Regions from separate parts of the Homo sapiens genome. Here all the other regions are linked to region 1. Evidence: fine-mapped expression QTL. A gene starts in region 1. Each other region holds a variant in brackets. All regions are shown on one strand. Distances are between the middles of the regions. Region 1 holds the start of ZNF232 (zinc finger protein 232). Region 2 overlaps ZNF594 (zinc finger protein 594). Region 3 holds the start of RABEP1 (rabaptin, RAB GTPase binding effector protein 1).

Region 1 (8,178 bases):
AGGTCAACAAGGAGAGTTCACGCCCCTGAGGCTCTAAGTCTAGTGTTCGCCGCTGGGAGAGAGGAGAGGTTGTTTGCAGGTATGTATGCAGGCCAAGAAGGAAGTTTCTGTAGTGAATCTGAAGGGTAGAAGGTGAGGGCACACATAAGAGAGTTTCAGATAGGGCTGTTTACATGAGGAAGAGGTGGTAAAGGTGATGACAGGCTGTATCTCACATAGGAGTGCTTTATGGCTTAAAAAGTGTTTTGCGAGGCCTCAGCGAGTTTAAAAAAAAAAAAAGGATCTCAAGGCTGGCCTCTAGCTCAGGGCAGAGTTATTATAGACTAGGAGTTAAGTGCAGTGGAGATGATAAGGCATAAATGAATGAGCTATTTCCTGGTCCTGATTTAGGGCTCTCTAAAGTTAAGAGATGCTGGCCAGGCTTTATATCCAGATAAGACCCAAGTTGAGCTTAATCCTCAGAGCTATCTTATGAGGTAGTTTATTCTTACTCCTAATTTTATGAGTGATGAAACAGGCAAAGTCTCTCACCTAAGAGATAAGAATAGTAAGGCTGTGATGATACCAAACATTTAAGCACCTACTACTATTTACCCTTTACAGGTACTAGGTACTGTGCCCTTTATAGTCCCTCTTTCTCCTCTCCCTCCCCACAGAATCCTGCTCCTCACCACTCTTTGGGAAAGGCTGGGTCTCCTTAGGCTGGAGCTGGATGCTCAGTGCTTCCTGGGCTGCTCCCAGAGATTCCTTCTTCTCCCATGGCTCTTCCTGTGCAGGTCCATGTGCAGGGCCTGGGACCTGGAGGTGATCAGGCACCACTCAGTTTAAATTTTCTTCAAATTACTAGTGTGGTTTCTGTCCCCTGCCTGGACACTTGCAGATGTGACCCTCCTTGGACCAAAGCTTCCAAGGAGACTTTAGAGAGCCTCCTCAGAGTCAGCACAAGGGAAGAAGAGGAGCTAGAGTCTCTTTCTCATTCAGGGCTCGAGGGCAGAAAAGACAGACACAGAAACACATACTAACTGCTCTACCTGGCCCAAGAGAGGTTTGAACTTGGCACCTCCCCCTACAGCTGCCCCTCGGTCCAGCCTGAAGGTCATCAATCTGGCTCCCATAACAGACCAAATCCCCCTTCCCACCTGCGGCTCTGGTTCAAGTCCTTTCTCTAAATCCTCCAGCACAGTCACAGCCTCCTCTCCACTCTTAGGGTGATGTCCCCGCACCCAGGATTGGAGCTCCTCAGGCAGGATGGTCAAGAATTGTTCCAGCACCAGGAACTCCAGGATCTGCTCCTTCGTGTGTTTCTCTGGCCTCAGCCACTCACAGCAGAGTACTCGTAGTTGGCTCAAGGCCTCCCGGGGACCAGGAGTCTCCTGGTAGCGGAGATGCCTGAAGCGTTGGCGGAAGATCTCTTGACTGGTAGAGTGGTTCCCAGGTAGCCTGGTCTCATACTCACAAGACTGTTCCTCTTCCTTTGGTCCCATCATCATCATCTTCTCTTGTCCCTGTGTACCCTGAAGGGCCAGAGTTTCAGCTGCTGTTAGTGATACAGCCATCCTAGTCTGCACTAGCTCTGCAGAAGGCTCATACCAGCTGGAATCTTGCAAGGGCCCCCTGTAACATAAGAAGAAATCATTCCTCTTTTTTTTTTTTAAGACAGAGTCTTTCTCTGTTACCCAGGCTGGAGTGCAGTGACATGATCTCAGCTCACTGCAACCTCCACCCCCGGGGTTCTAGCGATTCTCCTACCTCAGCCTCCCAAGTAGCTGGGATTACAGGCGCCTGCCACCACATCCAGCTAATTTTTTTGTATTTTTAGTAGGGACGGGGTTTTGCCATATTGGCCAGGCTGGTCTTGAACTCCTGACCTCAGGTGACCCACCCACCTCGGCCTCCCAAAGTGGTAGGATTACAGGCATGAGCCACCGCGCCCGTCCTCCTCTTCTTTTTTCATTCATTAAACATATACATATACTCAACACTCCAAAGAGCCAAACCCTGTCCTATGCCCTGTAGTCCCGCTTTTTCTTCCACCCCTCCCCAGAATTCTGCTGCACTAAGTCAATGTTTTTGAGAAACTTGCACCGTGGTAGAAACGGGGATGTAAAGTGGTTTTCTATAATACAACTAATTAAATGCCATTGACAGGAAAAATGTATCAAGAAAAAAAAAGTTCTGGGGGCCTATGGGAAGAAATGACTATTGGAAGAAATAAGTTTGAAGCAAAACCCAAGTTTCCAGATGCAGAGCCCAGAGCCGAGCAGCTTTCAGTGCAAGGTGGAATGTGTTGGGGAGGCAGCCTCCTCTGAGATGGCTCCTCCCTGCTTTCAAAAATTTCTGAAGTAGTAGCTACAGCAAAAGAAAAATATAAGTCCCCTTTAAGGAGCTGGATCTCATTCAAATGCCAAAGCCCTATTAAGGGGCAGCTATGAACAAGTCTCGGGTACAGTGGCCTGCGTCAAGGAAATCTAACAGGTGTAAACCAAAAAAGCATCTGAGATAGGTCTCAACCAATTTAGGGGTTATTTTGCTAAGGTTGAGGATGCACCCAGGAAAAAGACACACAAGCCACAGTAGGATCCGTGGCTCGCACTTTTACCAAAGAGGGTTTTGAGGGCTTCAATTTAATGGGGAGAAAGCTGGCAGGAGGGGAAGGAGGAGAGAAGAGGGAGGGTATGTGGTGAGGTAAGTGGCCACATTCTTGTGAGGATTTGATTAGAGCTCACTGAATCCACATGTTGCACGTGAAAAGAGGAAGTCAATTATGAATTTGTCTCGTGCTCAGTAAATCTGCATTTTACACAAGATAAGGTAGACATACAGTAGAGGAAGAAGTCAAATATGCTTTGTCTCTGGGTGGGTGGAGGAACGATTTCTAGTCTTGTCCGGTGAAGCTCGGCTGTTCGTTTCCATTGCCAGGGTGAGGGAGGCCACCTGGGGGCATATGTTGCTTTCTATCTTGCAGCTATCGGTTTAGGAACAAAAGGAAAAGCAGTTTTTTTCCGTGACTCAGTTTCCAAGCTTAACTTTTCCCTTTGTCATAGTAAGTTTGGGGTCCTGAGATTTTATTTTCCTTTCACACAGGGAAGGAGGTGGAACGCATCAGAGGCCACGAAAGGAGCACAAAGGGGGACCGCTGGCCTAAGACAAAGGAGGCGCGAGGAAAAACGCGGAGCTCGCGTCTCCCAGGGTGATGCCCGGCGCCGCTGGCCCCAGCAAAACTTCTCTACCCCGGCCTCGGGCAGGTGCCCGCCCGGGGAGGGGGCTGTCGTCCAGGCCAGGTACAACTCCCCTTCCCACCCTTCACTCCCTACCCAAGGGTCTCGAGAAAAGAGAAGAGGAACATCAAGACCCCCCTCCACGGCACGTGACGCGACGCAACGCAGGTAGCGCAGCGCGGGCACCACGGGCAACCCAAACCCCTCTCCACACACAACCGCGGAGCTGCCTGCCAGGCCTGCTCACTGCAGAGCCGCCGCTGCCTGCGGGACGGGCAAAAGCCAAGCCGCCAGGTGGACCTCGGGGAAGCCGCCGCCAACACTCACCTCACAGGACCAGGAGGTTCCATCGGGGCGCTGCCGCGAATCGCGCCACTTACAGCCCTCACCCCAGGGGCAGGTTTGCGCCTGCGCAGGTCGCAGCCTCGGCCTCCAACTCCCAGAATCCTCCTCGCCGCCGGCTTCCGTTCGCGGACTTTGGCCCAGGCGCGTGGGCGCTGCCGAGAGGCTGGGAGCCCGGGAACCGGTTCCTGGACTTGAGCGGAGCGAGAAAGAGCGCGCCGCCTGCACGACTGGACTGGAGCGGCCGGGTGCCCTGGAGGCCCCTGGGAATTGCAGTCCTTGCGCAGGTGGAGAGTGAGCCCTTGTAAGCGGGTGACTTCATCAAGTTTGGGGGGTCTCTTGTGGAATTGTACCTGAAGGGCGGTGCTGGCGGACAGATGTCAGGGAAATTCTGGCCTTGTCCATGGCCTGTGGTAACACTTCTCCATGAGTTCTATTTTCCAATTACCTCTTCCCAGACCTGATGAGAGGGCCACAGCTAAGGAAGACGGTCCCTTCCACGAAAAAATATTCCCCAACCACTAGCCTGTACAATTCCTGGGGCGTAGGGGGAGGGGAGGAGAAAAAAGAATTCTAAGGTTAATTTTATTGCGATGGGGGAAATAGGGGTTGGTGTTTTTTTGTTGTTGTTATTTTTTATTTTATTTATTTATTTGAGACGGAGTCTTGCTCTGTCGCCCAGGCTGGAGTGCAGTGGCGCGATCTTGGCTCACTGCAAGCTCCGCCTCCCGGGTTCACGCCATTCTCCTGCCTCAGCCTCCTGAGTAGCTGGGACTAGAGGCGCCCGCCACCACGCCCGGCTAATTTTTTTTTTTTGGTAGGAGACACGGCGTTTCACCATATTAGCCAGGATGGTCTCGATCTCCTGACCTCGTGATCCGCCCGTCTCGGCCTCCCAAAGTGCTGGGTTTACAGGCGCCCGGCCGATTATTTTTTATTTTTTTTTTGAGACATGGTGGCCAACATGGTGAAACCCTGTCTCTATTAAAAATACAAAAAGGTTAGCTGGGCGTGGTGGCGGGCGCCTGTAGTCCCCACTACTCAGGAGGCAGGAGAATCGTTTGAACCCGGGAGGCAGAGGTTGCAATAAGCTGAGATTGTGCCACTGCACTCTAGCCTGGGCGACAGAGTGAGACTCCGTCTCAAAAAAAAAATTAATTAAAAATAAATTTATCTCACTATCAATTTTGCAGGATATTGATTGATCCAGTCTCTCAATACTTTTATAAAATAGCTTAATCCTAGTCTCTCCAAGAAAAATTGTTGTTCAACTGTGTAGTACCATAGTAACAGTTCTCAGATTCTCAGATTATTAAATTTGTTTCTCCAAGATATAGTATCCTTGAAAATGCGCATTGACACCCCCATGGCTGGGGGATATATTATCTTTTTTCCTTCAAAGTGCCATTGATAATTACTGCACGTAGGAGCTATGGATAAAAATAGTTATCATTTGTTGAATGTCTACTACGTGTCTAGAACTATGCCAGGAACTTAATGAAATTGTCTTATTTAGTCTTCACAGTTGCTCCACAAGGGATTGTATTAATGTCATTATCTTGATTTTACAGATGAGAAAACTCAAGACTCAGAAACAATAAAGGTTACAGAGATGAAATTGACAGAGCCTGAATTTCAGTATGTCAAACTTCAATGTGCCATTATACTTTTAAATCCTACAGAACAGATTGAATCACAACTTCTACTTTTACATGAGAGAAGACAATGGGTCCTATGACTTACTGTCAGTTTCCTTTTCCTGATTTAATTAGCTGCTTCTGTATCTAATTTTGCTAGGAATGGAGGAATAAGGCAAATTCCCTAAACTACATATTGACATTTATACTAATGTGAAAACCTCAAGTCCATTTGCAGACTTTTGGATTAGATTCTGTCCCAGAAAGACATCCACCCTAGAGTTCAGGATATCATACCCATTTTACTGTTCCCCTGGCACAATTCATAGTAAGGAAAAACAGACAAGGGGAAAGCTATTAGATTCTCGGTGCTGCTAAACAGGACACACAAGGACACCATTTTGTGATGATGATGGTGCTTTATGCAGCTTCCACCATTTACAAGATTTTCCTGTGGTGTGGAACCTCTCATGATAAAGCAAAGGAACTAGAAGCTTATTCCAGTCAAGATTTCTGATTTATCTTGTGGTAAGCATTTGGGAAGGACATATCTGCACATGACCTGAGACTAAGTACTATACACTGAATCAGATGAAAATTGCTCTTAGGAAGCTTACAATTTTCCAAATAGTTAGGACAAAAACAAACTCTCCTTCTCTCTTCCTATATGTACATACTGACATCTTTATCATTACTGTCTTCCTAGGGTTATGATTCTGTATGGTTTCTTTGGTGCTGCATTAGACCTGAGCTCTGATTGAAAATTCTTCCACGCTCGCTACATTCCAAAACTTTATCTCCAATATGAATTTCCAGATGCCTCACAAGGTCTGAGCTCCATCTGAAGGCTTTCCCATGCTTGTCACATTCATAGGGCTTTTCTCCACTATGAATTCTATGATGTCGAATAAAGTGTGAGCTCTGATTACAAGTCTTTGAACATTCATTGCATTCACAAAGTTTCTTTCCACTGTGAATTCTTTGATGCTGAATAAGTTGTGAGCTCCCCTTCAAATCTTTCCCACACCCAATGCATTTATAAGGCCTCTCTCTCACCTTGTATGGATTCTCTGATGTTCTGTAAGGACTGAGTTCTGGCCAGGCGCAGTGGCTCACGCCTGTAATCCCAGCACTTTGGGAAACCGAGGCGGGTGGATCAGCTGGGCTCAGGAGTTCGAGACCAGCCTGGCCAGCATGGTGAAAGCCCCTCTCTACTAAAAATACAAAAATTAGCCGGGTGTGGTGGTGGGTGCCTGTAATCCCAGCTAATTGGGAGGCTGGGGCTGGAGAATTACTTGAACCTGGGAGGTGGAGGTTGCAGTGAGCCGAGATCGGGCCACTGCACTCCAGCCTGGCAGCAGTGTGAGACTCCGTCCCAAAAAATAACAAACAAACAAAAAAGACACCAGAGGGCTTTGGGTCCCTCTCTCTCTGCCATGTGAGGACCCTGTGAGAAGGCAGCCAGGGAGCTCTCACCAGAACCTGACCATGTTGGGCCCTGGTCACAGCCTTGCAGCCTCCAAAACTGAGAAAATAAATTTCTGTTGTCTGGCATCCAGTCTATGGTATTTTGTTACGGCAGCCCGAGCTAAGACAGAGGAAAACTGGGGGCTGATGTGACGGCGGGGACTTTAGGTAGAAGGACCCCACGTCAAAAGTCAAAGCTAAAAATTCTGGAACGAGCCAGGAAGGCATCAGGACGTCTCATTTTATTTGCTAGAGGCATCTTTTGGGGGGTGGGGCGGTGGGTGGGTGGAAGGAGATGTGGCCAGTGAGCCTCTGACTTTTAATTGAGTTATTTCGAAACAAGGAACAGAGGGCCGGATGTGGTGGGTCGTGCCTGTAATTCCAGCACTTTGCGAGGCCGAGGCCAGTGGATCACCTGAGGTCAGGAGTTCAAGACCAGCCTGGCCAACATGGTGAAACCCTCTCTCTACTAAAAATACAAAATTAGCCTGGCGTGGTGGGGGGCGCCTGTAATCCCAGCTACTCGGGAGGCTGAGGCGGGACAACAGCTTTAACCCGGGAGGCGGAGGTTACAGTGAGCCGAGATGGCGCCACTGCACTCCGGCTTGGGCAACAGAGCAAGACTCCGTCTCCAAAAACACACACACACACACACACAAAACCCAAAACGGAACAGAGGCAGTTCTGTATTCCAGAGGGATTGATTTGTGATGCCTGCTCAAAACTCAAGAAGCCACCACCCTGATACTCATCAAACCCCGGAGAAATTTCGTTTTTAGAGTGTCAGAAGGCCCCATGAATAACCTTCCAGTCACTGAGGGAGGTCCCTACTCAGCACGCCCCGGTCTCCTTCACTCTCCTGCACTCGTGCCTCACAGATGGCCTCATGCGCGGACTGGCGGTCCAGCCTCCCGGGGACACAGCCCGGGCGCACCCCGCGCCGCCTTTGGCCACTGAGGCGGTCCTCGAGGCGCCGGGCTAGGGAAAGCCTCCCCGGCCGTCAAGGCTGGGATAGCGCCGGGGGATCGGGGCGGGGTGCGTGCGCCGAAAGGGCCTCAAAGCTGTAGGGCTGGACGGCACAAAGGGGCGCAAGGCACGGAGGCCAGGCAGAGGGGACAGCTAGCGGCGCGGCGGGACGGGCGGGCCCCGACGCCCAGCTCCAAATGCGTGGCCGCTGTGGGAGCTCGTCTCCAGGCGCCCATCAGTCTTCCCCTCACTCGACGCTACCTTGGCGGCCGCGCCCATGCTGTCCCCGCTCCAACTAGCAGTCAGGAGGGGCCGCGGGCAGCGCTCGAGACGCTCATTGAGAGGACTTCCCGCCTGCGGGCTCTCTGCTCGACGCCACTCCCGGCCCCGCTCCGGGCGGCCCCCCTCACCACTCCCGGCCCCGCTCCCGGCGGCCCGCCTCACCACTCCCGGCTTCCCGGGGCTTAGGCCCGCACCATCGAGTCGAACCGAGTCCTCATGTTTTCCTAGACAAGCCGCTGGGGGAGAGGGGAAACACTTCTGGCCCA
Region 2 (8,158 bases), 71 kb after region 1:
GATGACAGGAGGCCCTCAAGGACCCAGAAGGCAGGACCACAGGGAGGTGACAGCGCCAGCAGCAGCAGGGCAGGCCTCTGCCTTGGCCACAGCTCCTGGCGGGCTGCAGGGGCCGGGAAGCCCGAGCAGCCTGGCGCTCCTGGCCCCTGCACACACTTCCCTCCCTCCACCCCGTTCCTCTCTCTCTCTGTGCCTTGGGCCCCCTGGGATGCGCTCACATCCAGACTCACCAGGCCGGAGACGTTGGCAGAATGGAGAAGTGCTGGCTACAGGTGGATGATGCCCACCTGGCTGCCAATGACTTCTGCACCAAGCGAGGCTGGGTCTCTGGAGCTGCACCAGGGGCTGGACAAGCTGACCCTGGCCGGAGCCAACCTGGAGATGCAGCCTGAGAACCTCAAGGAGGACCTGGTCTACCTGAAGAAGATTCAACAATGACTATCTTTCTTCAGCCCCATCTAATTACGGCCCCTGGCACATACTAAACAGTCACTAAGTAATTCTTAAATAACTTTTATTTCAACATTCAGTTAAAAACATTCCATACTGTAACAAAAATTTCAATCTTTCAAAAGTCCAATACCCTTAGTTTGATTCAAGCTCCATCAAAGATGAATTGGTTAGTTTTTAATCTGGAGTTTACAAGTCATAGTTAATATTTCAAAAAGCCTAACATAGACGATATGTTTGCCCACAAAAGGAATAAAAAGACTAATGAAAATGGTAAATTATTTGCTTTGGGCTGGAATTTTAGTACCTAGGTCTGCCTACATGGTGCCAGTCAGAAGCATGATTTGTGTTGTACATGCCTTTATGTAGCAAAATATAATTCTTTAATAAATGCAGTTTGGTAAACATAATCTTTTAAGACACAGGACATAGGGGAGTAAAAAGAAGGCCTTGGTGATTAAAAAGTTGGAAACCACTGAATTAAATTACCTTCAAATCCCTGTAAGTATCCTGTTTATCCTTATAAACATTAGCTCTCACTGTACAGCATTGTAAAGACAAGCAGAAGAGTTAGACTTTTTTTTTTTTTTGAGATGGAGTTTCGCACTTGTTGCCCAGGCTGGAGTGCAGTGGCATGATCTTGGCTCACCGCAACCTCCACCTCCCAGGTTCAAGTGATTCTCCTGCCCTAGCCTCGCAAGTACCTGGGACTACAGGCGTGCCCCACCATGCCTGGCTAATTTTTGTTATTTTTAGTAGAGACGGGGTTTTAGTATGTTGGCTGGGCATAGTAACTCCTCATGATCAACTCGTGACCTCGTGATCTGCCCACCTTGGCTTCCCAAAGTGCTGGATTACAGGTACGAGCCACCGCACCTGGCCTACACTCATTACTTTCACAGGGTTTTTTCCCACATTTAAACTTGTCACTCGACTAGGAAGTCAAGATTGAAATGGCTCTTTCCATGAATAATTTAGTTTTGGGGTTGTTGCCAAAGTGATTTATAATGATTTTAATAATGATAGACATCCCTTAAAACATTCTCAAGTAATTAGACCCCTGGGGCTGGTGCAGTGGCTCATGCCGGTAATCCCAACCCTTTGGGAGGCTGAGGAGGGAGGAGTGCTTGAGCCCAAGAGTTCAAGTCCAGCCTGGGCAACATAGTGAGACCTCATCTCTTTGTATGTTAAAAAATAAATAATTTAAAAAATTGTATCGTTGGGACCATATTCTAGTGTCAGTTCTGAGACAGAAAAAAAAAAGGTGATTATGTCCAAGAGCTTTTGGCTTTTCCACTTGATTATACTTACGTTTGAAAAATCCAGTAGGTATTTTCTCTGCTTTCCCACCTTCCCATGGTTTTTTTCTAATAAAACTCATTTGTAGTGCAATAAGATGTGGTCTCCATCAGACTTTTCCTAGTTTTACTGCATTCATTAGGTTTCTGCTACCTATTAGAATAGGTCCTGTTTGTAGACTCTTACAGTCTTCAAATTCCTTTCCAATGTGAAGTTTCTGGTGCTTAAGAAAAGCTGTCCACCCACTGAAGGCCTTACCACAGTTGCTACATTCAAAGGGTTTCTCTCTGGTATGAATTCTTTGATGACTGACAAGGTGTGAGTTCTGACTGAAGGCCTTCCAACATTCAGGGCATTCATAGGGTTTCTCTCCAGTATGAACACGATGGTGTCTAATAAGATCTGAGCTGCCCCTAAAAGATTTCCCACATTTGTTGCATACATAAGGTTTTTCTCCACTGTGAATTCTATGATGTCTCAGAAGGTCTGAGCTCTGATTGAAAGTTTTCCCACATTCTTTACATTCATATGGTTTCTCTCCTGTATGAGTTACCTGATGTCCGATGAGGTCTGAGCTGCCCTGGAAAGCCCTACCACACTGATTACACCAATAAGCTTTCTCTTCTTGGTGAATTTTCTGCTCTCCCCTAAGCTCCTCATCCTTGCTGAAGGTTTTCTCACGTTCTTCAAGTTTCTCTCCAGCATGCAGTCTCTGATGTTTGAGGAAAGCTGTGTGCCACATGAAGAGTTTCCCACATTCCTTACATTCATAGGGTTTCTCACCACTATGAATTCTCCGACGTTGAATAAGGAGTGAACGCCGCCTGAAGGCTTTTTCACATTCAGTGCACTGATAGGGCTTCTCTCCAGTGTGGATTTTCTGGTGTGTGACAAGGTGGGACCTCTGGCTAAAGACTTTCCCACATTCACTACATTCATGAGGTTTCTCTCCAGTATGAACACGATGGTGTTTAATAAGATCTGAGCTGCTCCTAAAAGATTCCCCACATTTATTGCATACGTAAGGTTTTTCTCCACTGTGAATTCTATGATGTCTCAGAAGGTCTGAGCTCTGATTGAGTTTTCCCACATTCTTTACATTCATATGGTTTCTCTCTTGTATGAGTTACCTGATGTCTGATGAGATCTGAGCTGCCCTGGAAGGTCCTACTACACTGATTACACCAATAAACTTTCTTTTCCTGGTGAGTTCTCTGCTCTTTTCTAAGCTCCTCATCCTTGCTGAAGGTTTTCTCACATTCTTCAAGTTTCTCTCCAGCATGCAGTCTCTGATGTTTGAGGAAAGCCGTGTGCCACATGAAGAGTTTCCCACATTCCTTACATTCATAGGGTTTCTCACCACTATGAAGTCTCCGATGTTGAATAAGGAGGGAACGCCGCCTGAAGGCATTCCCACATTCACTGCACTGATAGGGTTTCTCTCCAGTATGGATTTTCTGGTGTGTAGCAAGGTGTGACCTCTGGCTGAAGGCTTTCCCACATTCACTACATTCATAGGGTTTCTCTCCAGTATGAATACGATGGTGTTTAATAAGATCTGAGCTACCCCTAAAAGATTTCCCACATTTGTTGCATACATAAGGTTTTTCTCCACTGTGAATTCTATGATGTCTCAGAAGGTCTGAGCTCTGATTGAAAGTTTTCCCACATTCTTTGCATTCATATGGTTTCTCTCTTGTATGAGTTACCTGATGTCTGATGAGGTCTGAGCTGCCCTGGAAAGCCCTACCACACTGATTACACCAATAAGCTTTCGCTTCCTGGTGAATTTTCTGCTCTCCCCTAAGCTCCTCATCCTGGCTGAAGGTTTTCTCACATTCAAGTTTCTCTCCAGTATGCAGGCTCTGATGTTTGAGGAAAGCTGTGCGCCAAATGAAGAGCTTCCCACATTCCTTACATTCATAGGGTTTCTCACCACTATGAATTCTCCGATGTTGAATAAGGAGTGAACGCCGCCTGAAGGCTTTCCCACATTCAGTGCACTGATAGGGCTTCTCTCCAGTATGGATTTTCTGGTGTGTAACAAGGTGTGACCTCTGGCTAAAGGCTTTCCCACATTCACTACATTCATAGGGTTTCTCTCCAGTATGAACACGATGGTGTCTAATAAGATCTGAGCTGCCCCTAAAAGATTTCCCACATTTGCTACATACACAAGGTTTTTCTCCACTGTGAATTCTATGATGTCTCAGAAGGTCTGAGCTCTGATTGAAAGTTTTCCCACATTCTTTACATTCATATGGTTTCTCTCCTGTATGAGTTACCTGATGTCTGATGAGGTCTGAGGTGCCCTGGAAATTCCTACCACACTGATTACACCAATAAGCTTTCTCTTCCTGGTGAATTCTCTGCTCTTCCCTAAGCTCCTCATCCTTGCTGAAGGTTTTCTCACATTCTTCAATTTTCTCTCCAGCATGCAATCTCTGATGTTTAA[G/A]AAAAGCTGTGCGCCCACTGAAGGTCTTCCCACATCTGTGACATTCATAGGGTTTCTCTCCACTGTGGAGTCTCTGGTGTTCAGTAAGGTGAGAATGCTGCCTGAAGGCTTTTTCACATTCATTACATTTGAGGGGTTTCTCTCCAGTGTGAATTCTCTGATGTGGGACAAGGTGTGAACTTTGACTGAACATCTGTCCACAGTCATAACATTCATAGGGTTTCTCTCCAGTGTGAATTCTGTGATGTATAATAAGATCTGTGCTTTGACTGAAAGCCTTCCCACATTTATTGCATAAATATGGCTTCCCCCTACTGTGGATTCTCTGGTGCAGGACAAGGTTTGAGCTTCCCTTAAAAGCCTTCCCACACTCTTTGCACTCATAGGGATTCCCACCACTGTGAATTTGCTTATGTCTCACCAGATTGGAGCTCTGATTGAAGTCTTTTCCACATTCATGACATATATAAGGTTTCTTTCCTGTATGAATTCTCTGATGTATAATAAGATTTGAACTTTGATTAGAGTCTTTCCCACATTCATTACACACATATGGCTTATTTCCTGTATGAATTCTCTGATGTATGATCAGGTTTGAACTCCTGTTGAAGGTTTTTTCACATTCCTTACATTCATAGGTCTTATTTATATTATGAATTTTCTGATGTTCAGTTAATCCTGACTTCTGTTTGAAGTTTTGGCCACTAACCTCATATCTATGGGAGCTTTCTCCTGCAGAAAGTATTTTTTCTCCTTCATTACATCCATGGCCAATCTCTCCCACAATGGCTTTCTGGGGGATAATATGCATTTCCCTGATACCGCTCTCTTGGGAAGGGAGATGTCTCATTGCATCCTTTAAAGGGCTTACCCAGTGCTTCAATAATCTGTCCTCAGAATTACTGGTTTCAACTAACTCACATTCCTGGGTGATTTGTCTTTGGAGTTTTTCGGATGCAGCCCTTGCTGACTTCTTTTCTTCAGAAATTTCCATCTTTGATTTCCATTCCTTCATCTTATTCCTGTCTTCAGAATCTGAAATGATAAGTAGATCATTCTATAATTCCTAAAATACAAATATCATCTCTTCATTATACTGGGCAGTCTAAGAGGGAGGAACAAAGAACTCAGAAGACCTTTCCCTGCCAAAGCTGAGATGTGGCTTTCACTAGCGACACTGTGGCTAACACAGGAACCTGTGCTACCACATACCCTGTTGGTGAAAAAACCCGCCAGGGTGCAGGCTGGAGCTGGGCTGTGGGAGTGGCCTAAAGGGTGGTGAATTAATTCACTGGGGGAGGAGGGCAATCTGGAGTTGGTCCACAGGAAGTGGCCTGTTGGATGGGGGAGGAACTTGCTGGATGGTGTGGCTGGGCCTGAACTGGTTCACAGGAAGCAACCCACTAGGGTAAATGCCACCAGGCCTCCCACAAGTTGATCTGCTAGCAGCCACATAAGTAAATAATTAAAATAAATAAATAAAAATAGAACAGCACACCGGTACCAGGAAGTTAGTTTCTCTTCCCATGGCCACGCATTGTCCCTCCAGCATCCTCTGTTGACAAAGTCAAATCTTGTACGAACTGGCAAAGGAGAAATGTTTACAGAATCCAGCTTTGTAACAAAAGCAAACAAAGATGGGTGGATCTGGAGTTGAGAGGCAATAAATTAATAACCAGCATACTGCTCTTTCCTCCCTATATATCATGATAGTTAAGCAAATCTGTACTATGCCTCAGAATAAAAACGTTTGGCTGTCATTTCAATAGAAATCAATTCTCTTCTTCTCAGACCTCACATTTTTCTTTCTGATATTCTGATGGAATTGCCTCCTTTTGTGTGGCAATTTGATTTCTTCTGAAATTACAAGATAGATGAGCTTATTGCTTTTGAGGGTCCACGTTATCAAATCCCTGACCTTCCCCAGTGGATTAGTCCGTTTTCATGCTGCTGATAAAGACATACCTGAGACTGGAGAGAAAAAGAGGTTTAGTTGGACTTACAGTTCCACATGGCTGGGAAGGCCTCAGAATCATGGTGGGAGGTGAAAGGCACATCTTACATGGTGGTGGCAAGAGAAAATGAGGAAGATGCAAAAGCAGAAACCCCTGATAAAATCATCAGATCTCATGAGACTTATTCACTACCATGAGAATAGTAGGGGGGAAACTGCCCCCATGATTCAAATTATCTCCCACCATATCCCTCCCACAAAACATGGGATTTATGGGAGTACAATTCAAGATGAGACTTGAGTGGGGACACAGAGCCAAACCATATCATTCTGCCCCTGGCCCCTCCAAATCTTATGTCCTCACATTTCAAAACCAATCATGCCTTCCCAACAGTCCCCCTAAGTCTCATCTCATTTCAGCATTAACCCAAAAGTCCACAGTTCAAAGTCTCAACAGAAACAAGGCAAGTCCCTTCCTCCTATGAGCCTGTAAAATCAAAAGCAAGCTAGTTACTTCCTAGATATAATGGGGGTACAGGTATTGCTGGGTAAATACAGCTGTTCCAAATGGGAGAAATTGGCCAAAACAAAGGGGTTACAGGGCCCATGCAAGTCCGAAATCCAGCAAGGCAATCAAATTTTAAACCTCCAAAATGATCTCCTTTGACTCCAGGTCTCACATCCAGGTCATGCTGATGCAAGAGGTGGGTTCCCATGGTCTTGGGCAACTCCACCCCTGTGGCTTTGTAGGGCACAGCCTCCCTCCTGGCTGCTTTCACGGGCTGGTGTTGAGTGTCTGCAGCTTTTCCAGGCATACGGTGCAAGCTGTAGGTGGATCTACCATTCTGGGGTCTGGAGGTCATTGGCCCTCTTCTCACAGCTCCACTAGAAGGTGCCCGAGTAGGGACTCCATATGGTGGCTTCGACCCCACATTTCCCTTCTGCAGTGCCCTAGCAGAGGTTCTCCATGAGATCCCTGCCCCTGCAGCAAACTTCTGGCTGGGCATCCAAGCGTTTCCATACATCTTCTGAAATCCAGGTGGAAGTTCCCAAACCTCAATTCTTGACTTCTGTGTACCTAAAGACTCAACACCATGTGGAAACTGCCAAGGCTTAGGGCACCCTCTGAAGCCACAGCTTGAGCTCTATCTACATTGGCCCCTTTCAGCCATGGCTAGAGCGGCTGGGATGCAGCGCACCAAGTCCCTAGGCTGGACACAGCATTGGGACCCTGGGCCTGGCCCACAAAACCATTTTCTCCTAGGCCTCCAGGCCTGTGATGGGAGGGGCTGCTGTGAAGACTTCTGACATGCCCTGGAGACATTTTCCCCATTGTCTTGCGGATTAACATTCAGCTTCTTGTTACTTATGCAAATTTCTGCAGCCTGATTGAATTTCTCCTCAGAAAATGGGTTTTTCTTTTCTATCACATTCTCAGGCTGCAAATTTTCTGAACTTTTATGCTCTGCTTCCCTCATAAAACTGAATCCATTTAACAGGACCCAAGTCACACCTTGAATGTTTTGCTGCTTAGAAATTTCTTCCACCAGATACCCTAAATCATCTCTCTCAAGTTCAAAGTTCCACAAATCTCTAGGGCAGTGGCAAAATGCCACCAGTGTCTTTGCTAAAACATAACAAGAGTCACCTCTGCTCCAGTTCCCGACAAGTTCCTCATCTCCATCTGAGACCACCTCAGCCTGGACCTTATTGTCCATAATGCTGTCAGGCCTTTGGTCAAAGCCACTCAACAAGTCTCTAGAAGTTCCAAACTTTCCCACATTTTCCTGTCTTCTTCTGAGCCCCCCAGACTGTTCCGACCTTTGCCTGTTCTCCAGCTCCAGAATTGCTTCCACATTTTGGATGTCTTTTCAGCAGCACCCCTGGCACCAATTTACTGTATTAGTATGTTTTCATGCTGCTGATGAAGACATACCCGAGACTGGGAAGAAAAAGAGGTTTAATTGGACTTACAGTTCCACATGGTTTGAGAGGCCTCA
Region 3 (8,145 bases), 170 kb after region 1:
CTAGGTGTCCAAATCATATGCCTGACCATTTCTGAGGGACCTTGACTTGAGGGCCTGGCTTCAAGCCTCATTATCAATGGCAACAAATTTGCCACTCTCTCACTGGAAGGAGCCCCTTCTATTTTATTTTTATTTATTTCTTTTTTTTGAGAGGGAGTCTTGCTCTGTCGCCCAGGCTGGAGTGCAGTGGTGCAATTTTGGCTCACTGCAACCTCTGGACCTCCTGGGTTCAAGCAATTCTGCCTCAGCCTCCCGATTGTAAGTGCCCAACACCACGCCTGGCTAATTTTTGTATTTTAGTAGAGACAGGGTTTCACCATGTTGGTCAGGCTGGTCTTGAACTTCTGACCTCAAATGATCTGCCCGCCTCGGCCTCCCAAAGTGCTGGGATTACAGGCGTGAGCCACCACACCTGGCCGCATCTGCTATCTTTATGGCTTATGCCTCGTGTTAGTCATCACAACAATACAGAGGATGCACTGGGCTGCCCTATCCTGGCCAAAGGTCTTCCTGGTAAGCATGGATTTGCTCATCCAGGAAAATCATTTATGGGGGGTTGGGCAGGGTGTTGGGGAGACCCTGCTTGCTCTCTCAAATGCACACCAGCCATTTGGGAGACATTAACTGCTCAAAAAACTCGAGTCTGTATTTTGGCTCTCCTCTAACGATGGCAGGACCTGGGGCAAAAGTACAAATAGATACCTAAATTATTTAAAATTACAAACCAGTTTGGACGTGGTGGCTCACACCTGTAATCCCAGCACTTTGGGAGGCCGAGGTGGGTAGATCACTTGAGGTCAGGAGTTCAAGACCAGCCGGGCTAACATGGTGAAACCCTGTCTCTACTAAAATTACAAGAGTTAACTGGGCGTGGTGACACACGCCTATAATCCTAGCTACTCAGGAGGCTGAGGCAGGAGAATCACTGGAATCCGGGAGGTGGAGGTTGCAGTGAGCTGAGATGGTGCCACTGCCCTCCAGCCTGGGCAATAGAGTGAGAGACTCCGTCTCCAAAAATTAAATAAATAATAAAATAAAATAAAATTACAAACTACTCCAATTAACCGCTAACCTTAATACAGTCTATCCTTCTACTTGGACAAATCTACCTGTTTAAGACCTGGAAGACCAGGTTTAAATTTAGAATTCCTGGGCTCCTGGGAGTTATGCCCATGAATGAGGTGGCGAAAGCAGCACAGGCCCTGGCCCAACTATTGTCTCTTGGCTCACTTGCCTTCTTTTCTCACCTCTGTCCTGCACCATGAGGGATCTGTGGACATAGGAGCTCAAACACCCAAGTGTCGTGTCACCCCCTTAAAATAAAACAAAGCTGCCCTTTAGCCTCCCTTTTTTTCAGTGAGAAATAATCATTTTAATAAAAGTATACCTTATTTAAAACAAATGATTTAAAGAAAGTAGAAACTGATTCTAATTAGTGGATTTTCTGATTATTATTATTATTATTTGAGATGGAGTCTCGATCTGTCGCCCAGGCTGGCAGTGGTGCGATCTTGGCTCACTGCAACCTCCGCCTTCTGGGTTCAAGCAATTCTCTGCCTCAGCCTCCCGAGTAGCTGGGAGTACAGGCGCCTGCCACCACACCCGACTAATTTTTTGTATTTTTAGTAGAGATGGGGTTTCACCATCTTGGAGAGGCTGATCTTGAACTCCTGACCTCGTGATCCACCTGCCTCAGTCTCCCAAAGTGCTGGGATTACAGGCGTGAGCCACTGTGCCCGGCCTATTATTATTTTTTTATTATACTTTAAATTCTTGGATACATGTGCTAAACGTGCAGGTTTGTTACATAGGTATACATGTGCCATGGTGGTTTGCTGCATCTATCAACCCGTCATCTAGGTTTTAAGCCCCGCATGCATTAGGTATTTGTCCTAATGCTCTCCCTCCCCTTCCCCCCACCCCCCACAGGCCCCGGTGTGTGATGTTCCCCTCCCTGTGTCCATGTGTTCTCATTATTCAATTCCCACTTATGAGTGAGAACATGAGGTGTTTGGTTTTCTTTTCCTGTGTTAGTTTGCTGAGAATGATGGTTTCCAGCTTCATGCATGTCCCTGCAAAGGACATGAACTCATTCTTTATGCTTTCACTTTAGCTTCTTTTAGGGATGTCTAGACTCTGCCATAGAGAGAATGGATCTGGGAAAGAGACCACAGCTTCAGCCATCTGGAAAGGGAATTCTGGGGCCACAAGTATTCAGAACTTGGTCCTGAAGTGCCAAACCCTGTGGACTCCCTCATCCTGGGGTGGGATTGCTGGGTCTTAAAATGTACATAATTCCTGATGCTCCTCTCTGATTTCAAAATAGCTTTTTAGGCCGGGCGCGGTGGCTCACGCCTGTAATCCCAGCACTTTGGGAGGCTGAGGCAGGCGGATCACGAGGTCAAGGGTTTGAGACCAGCCTGACCAACATAGTGAAACCCCGTCTCTACTAAAAATACAAAAATTAGCCGGGTGTGGTGGCGTGCGCCTGTTGTCCCAGCTAGTCGGGAGGCTGAGGCAGGAGAATTGCTTGAACCCGGGAGGCAGAGGTTGCAGTGAGCCGAGATCGCACCATGGCACTCCAGCCTGGGTGTCAGAGTGAGACTCTATCTCCAAAAAAAAAAAAAAAGCTTTTTAAACTACCTCCTTGGCATGGGGCACTCCAGGTGTCGAAATCAGACGGGGAGTGGTGATTAGAGGGGAGTTCCTAAAGTATAGGGCCCAGGGGCCCAAGTATAAGGGCCACACTTTGTGTATATGATTTCTCCTTTCCTGCCATGAGTGCAGGGTCTGTACCTGGCTGTATCTCCAGCATCTATCACGACTGAAAACCCAAACGTATTTGCTGAATGGATAGTATACTGGCCTCTGCACCAGAAGACCTGGGGTCCAGGCCCAGTACTGTCGGAAACAGTTCTTCATACTTTATTACCTCGTTTAAACTTTTCTTAGCCATTATATTGATAAAAATTCCAAGAGGTGAAGTGACTCTCCCAAGGTCGCAAAGCTAGAAGAGGTAGAGGCTGGAACTGCACCCCGCCATCGGTCCTCCTCTCTTACTCATTTTTTTTTTTCCCCTCACTGTGCTGGGGTGGAGAACCGGGACCGGCACCTTCGAGAGGCCAGGCCTCTGCTGCAGCCCCTCTTCTCCAGCTCCGCTCGGCACTCAGCCTCCCCGCGCCGCTGGGTCAGGCGCCCAGCTCCGCCGAAACCCTCCCCTCCCGCCGCGCTCCCTCCGCGCTCCCTCCGCGCTCCCTCCGCGCTCCCTCCGCGCTCCCTCCGCGCTCCCTCCGCGCTCCCTCCGCGCTCCCTCCGCGCTCCCTCCGCGCTCCCGAGGCCCCGCCCCTCCCCTCGGGCCAACGTCACGTGCCGCCCCATCCCCCTGCGCCTGCGCACTGCTTATTTCCCGCTGTCAGGATGAGGAGGCGGAGGTCGGCGGTCGGGTCCGTCTCTGCCCGCGGCTGTGGCGGCGCCGGCGGATCCAGCCTTAGCGGTTTCTCTCTGGGCGGCGGCGGCGGCGGCTCGGTTGACGCCTCCTCCGCCAGCTGAGCCCGCGGGAGCCCAGGACGCCGCTTCCCCGCCCATCCCCGCTCCCCGAGGCCGGCCGCCTGGTCATGGCGCAGCCGGGCCCGGCTTCCCAGCCTGACGGTGAGGCGCCCACCATGGCAGGCGCGGCGGGCGCGGCCTGCCCGGCGTCGGCGTCGCGGGAGGATTTCGGGGCGGGCAGGCGGCGGCAAGGGCGCGCGCAGGCCCCGGGGGTGACCCCGCCGGGCGGAGGCGG[GGGCGCGCGGGCTGC/G]GGCGCGCGAGGGCGGCGCGGGCGCCCCGGCTGCCGTCGCTGGGGAGGGGGCGGGAGGCGCGGGTGCAGCGCTTGCGGGAGGGCAGAGGGAAGGGCGTGGGGAGGCTGCTGGGTAGCGTGGGGTAGTGTGGGGAGGGAGCGGTTCTGGGTAGCGGGGGACCGGCACGTGGGTTCTGCCCGTGGGGGAGGATGGAAATCGGGAACATGTGCTATATTCGTTAAAGAAAAAAAATCTTAGCTTAGGTAGTGTACCCTCCCTGCCGCCCCAATCCTTGCTATAGAACTCTTTGCACCCAGTTATGTGACCTGAAAGTAGTTGTGTACAGTAACTGGATTTAGTAGCATTCCCTGAATGGCAGTGTGGCTTAATGGTTAAGTGTTGGGGCCTGGGAGTCTAGAGGACCTGTATTCTTAACCAGCAAGCTCTGGGCTCATTTCTTAGCCTCGTTGAGCCTCAGTATTCTCACCCACGAATTAACCAAGAGGTTAATTCATGCCTTTATATTTTATCTATAAAAATAGCAACACGAATGTGTATATACAATAATAGTATTATGGAGGTATTAGGAATAATGAGAATAGTGTTTGAGAATGCTGAGGCCTACTTGCACTACTTGAAGATATTTGCTTGTGGAACTAAAAAAAAAAAAGTGAAGTCGAAGAAATGTGTCATTTATATTCTTGGAAGGAAAAAAGGGCCCCATCCTAAATAATCAAAGTTGGTTGTCAGAGCCCTTCGTGACCTTCTGGGAAATTGGACTAAGCTGTGCTTCACAGATTGACTACATGGTTCCAGGTTTTACCACCTAGAATAGATGTTTGGAAATAGTGTGCTTGGGCTTTTCCAAGGTCCCACTGTATCTAGTTGTGAAAGTACTTTCTGGTGTATTTCTATAATCAGCGTGTGTGCTTAGCATCTTTAAGTGTGAGTAGAGTAGAATGTTGGGAAAAGGGGCTTGGTACGGAGTAGGTACTTTAAAACTTGGCTTTCCTTGGGGTTGTCTCAAAATAACCTTTCGTGAAACCCTTACTTTTTATTTTTGCCTTTGGGGAACTTGAAACCATGTTATCAGATTTTAAGGTTCTGGCTGCTCTCTGGGAAATGTGCTTCAGAGCCTGTTAGCCTGTAGTTTTGGGTGTTGTTGCTTGCCTAAGGGGAGATGTCCAGTAAGCATTTAGACTTTTATAAGAACCTGCTTTGCTGTTTCTGTTCCAGGAGAAGGGAAGGGAAGCATTTTTGGTGGGCTGTCAGAGAGAGGAAACTGGGATGTCTTCAGGCTGCATTTTAATGATCACCTTTTGCATTTGGTGTCAGGCAAGAAAACTTTGTTCTTCCACAATCCCACTTTGTTACTGCACACAGAGGCAAGATACAGAGAGCTTGTGGTTCTGAACAGGAGTGGTAGGTATGCATAGCTGGCTGCTGCCTTCTCTTGAGTTGCATGGAAAGAAACGTCTAGGGCAGCTCAGGTGACATGACCGTCTGGAATCAAAATTCCCTGCCTCTTTGAAGATATGAAATGGTCTTCCTTGTAAATAGGCAGAAGTGACTAAGCACTTGAACGAGGCTAGGGAAAACTAGCTTTAGGAAATCTTGTATTCTTGGTATTTTAGTTCAGGTTTCTTTCCTATTTCTCAAATCTTGTGACTCTAGGATGAGATTTAGTTTGCATAGATTGCAATTTTTATTTTAAATTAATGTAGGTAGCCATGGCTACTTTTTACAGTAGGAGAGAGATAATTTGGTACGTTTGAGTGCCTTGTGTCAGTGCCTTAGAAGTTCATCTTGGGGATTTTAATTTTTTTTTTTTTCTTTGAGACAGTATCTCACTCTGTTGCCCAGGCTGGAGAGCAGTGGCGCGATCTTGGCTCACTGCAGCCTCGACCTCCTGGGGTCAAAGCAATCCTGCTACCTCAGCCTCCCAAGTAGCTGTGACTACAGGTGCATGCCACTATTCCCAGCTAATTTTTGTATTTTTGTAGATACGGCGTTTTGCCATGTTGCCTAGGCTGGTCCCAAACTCCTGAACTCAAGGGATCCACCTGCCTACACTTCCCAAAGTGCTAGGATTGTAGGTGTGAGCCCGTGAGTCCGGCTTTTGGGGATTTAATTTGTGTCTTTAGCTGAACTCATGTAGACCATTTTAGCTTTAGGCACGTTTGAATTTCCTAGTCCTGCTGATTAAAAAAAAAAAAAATCGCCAGAATTCTTTTGTGTCAAACTGGTGGTGAAAGATAACTAACTGCTTAGTCTTTGACTTTATCTTGTTTTATCCTGTTTCAGAAGCGATTGTCTTTGATGACTTTTTAAAAAAAAAAAAATATTGTCTGTTTTTCATGGCCATATGGTAGATTAGGAAAATCGATTTGTGTGTAAATCGAAGGGATGAAATGTAATCATTTTATTCATTGTAATTATTTTGTAAGTTAAAAAAAGTTTTGGGTTTTTGATACTGCATCTTAGTTTACTTATTTGGAATACAGGTAATTTTAATAGTTAAAGAAATTTCAGTTGATCTGTTTTCCCTTGAGAATTTAAAAATGAAAATTTTCTAATTTTAGTATTTCTTTTAATCTAAGTTCAACTATATCTTTGAAGCATTTGCTCTGGTTTTACTTCACTTTTTTTCTTTTTTTTTTTTTTCTTTTGTAGAGAGGGTCTCATTGTGTTGCCCAGTCTGGTCTTGAACCCCTGGGCTCAAGTGATTCTCCCATCTTGGCCTCTCAGTGTTGGGATTACAGGCATGAGCAACTGCACCCAGCCTACTTCATTATTTTTTATTCTTGCCATGTTGGCCAGGCTGGATTCCTGATTGTTTCCTGTTAGTTACACAGACATGCTACCTTTTACCCCTGAAGGACATGCTTTACATACATAAGTCTGCAACTTCCCTATCTCACTTAATAAATGTTAGCTATCATATTATATACTCATGGTTATATGGCCATGTAATGTTCTGCAAACACTATAGGCATTATCTTAGGAAATCTTCATAGCAATGGTACTATTGAATATTACTGCTTCTATTTTCTTGATGAGGAAACTGAAGCACACAGAAGTTAAAGAAACGTGCCTGTGTTATACAGCTATTAAGTGGGGGAGCAGGATTCAAATCCATGCCATCTGGCTTATGTACTAGATCATGGACTACTTCCAGGTCAGTGTTGTAGGCCTTCTTCATTCTTCTTAAAGACGATCTTATCATATGCATGTACCAGGCATGATTTATGGCCTATTTCCCTATTGTGGGGCAAGTAGATTGTTTTCAAATTTTAATTATTTTATAAGCAGTGTTGTAATGGATGTCCTTGTGCATATTTTTTAAGGTACTCTTTTACTTCTGTAAGACTAGTGAATTAAATAAAGGGCATGAGTTCCGAGTGGTTTAAATTTTAATACCTGTTGCTAGCTTACTCTCCAAGGCATCAATTTACATACTTGCCAACGATATATGGCAGGTGGATTTCCCCTGTAATCCTACAAGCTCTGGATGATGTCATTTGTTTTAAATTTGTGTCTTTTGATTAAAAAAAGTGATATTGTTTGGCCGGGCATGGTGGCTCATGCCTGTAATCCCAGCACTTTGGGAGGCCAAGGCAGATGGATCACAAGGTCAGGCGTTCAAGACCAGCCTGGCCAATATGGTGAAACCCCATCTCTACTAAAAATACAAAAGTTAGCCGGGTGTGGTGGTGCGCACCTGTAGTCCCAGCTACTCAGGAGGCTGAGGCAGAAGAACCGCTTGAACCCGGGAGGTGGAGTGAGCAGTGAGCCGAGATCGTGCCACTGCACTCCAGCCTGGGGGACAGAGTGAGACTCTGTCTCAAAAAAAAAAGAGTTGTATTGTTCAATTAACAAGTATTTGTGTGCCTATTCTATGCCGAATCCTATGCTAGGATCTAGGAAATACAGTGATGAACAAAACCAGACCCAGTCCCTTTCCCAGGTAGTGAATCATTCAGCCATTAATTAGATAATCCTATAGACACACACAAAACTATTTATTCATCTAATATGAATGCATACTGTTTGTCAGGCACAATTCTAGGCATTTGGAATACATCAGTAGGCAATATAGATAATAAATAACCCTGCCCTAGTGTGGGAGAAACGGATATTAAACAACAAACGTAAGCAAATGATACGGGTTGTTAGATGATAAGTGCAATGGAAAAAAGAAAACAGAGCAGGAGAAAGGGAAGGGGGTGGGGCTGGTTTTAAATAGGCTGGTCAGGCAGCTTTATTGAGAAGATGACATTTGTGCAAAGACTTGAAGTAGATAGAGGAGTTAGCCTTGAGGATATCTGGTGGAAGGGTGTTCTAGGCAGGGATCAGTTTTTGCATATGCC

What was found.
Region 2: its variant is fine-mapped to the expression of ZNF232 in lung (TOPMed, PIP above 0.99). The same link has a PIP of 0.9 or more in esophagus muscle.
Region 3: its variant is fine-mapped to the expression of ZNF232 in lymphoblastoid cells (GEUVADIS, PIP 0.95).

Annotation. Positions count from the first base shown.
Region 1 is chr17:5,108,255-5,116,432 of GRCh38, forward strand. ZNF232 (zinc finger protein 232) reads right to left here and starts at 3,624. Exons shown (of 4, transcript NM_014519.6): 1 at 3,546-3,624; 2 at 1,140-1,614; 3 at 672-798. The coding sequence starts at 3,568. It overlaps USP6 (ubiquitin specific peptidase 6), which reads left to right and starts at 7,778. Exons shown (of 38, transcript NM_001304284.2): 1 at 7,778-8,178. It overlaps ZNF232-AS1 (ZNF232 antisense RNA 1), which reads left to right and starts at 3,681. Exons shown (of 3, transcript NR_135658.1): 1 at 3,681-3,847; 2 at 5,132-5,198; 3 at 5,904-6,128. RefSeq lists an enhancer at 3,935-3,984.
Region 2 is chr17:5,179,038-5,187,195 of GRCh38, forward strand. It overlaps ZNF594 (zinc finger protein 594), which reads right to left. Exons shown (of 2, transcript NM_032530.2): 2 at 498-5,239. The coding sequence starts at 5,219. The coding sequence ends at 2,796. Among named protein-coding and RNA genes, the nearest start is that of ZNF594, 8.8 kb to the right of the region's middle. The variant G/A (reference allele first, on the strand shown) is at 4,205.
Region 3 is chr17:5,278,873-5,287,017 of GRCh38, forward strand. It overlaps RABEP1 (rabaptin, RAB GTPase binding effector protein 1), which reads left to right and starts at 3,412. Exons shown (of 18, transcript NM_004703.6): 1 at 3,412-3,648. The coding sequence starts at 3,615. RefSeq lists a silencer at 3,132-3,851 and an enhancer at 5,699-6,217. The variant GGGCGCGCGGGCTGC/G (reference allele first, on the strand shown) is at 3,782.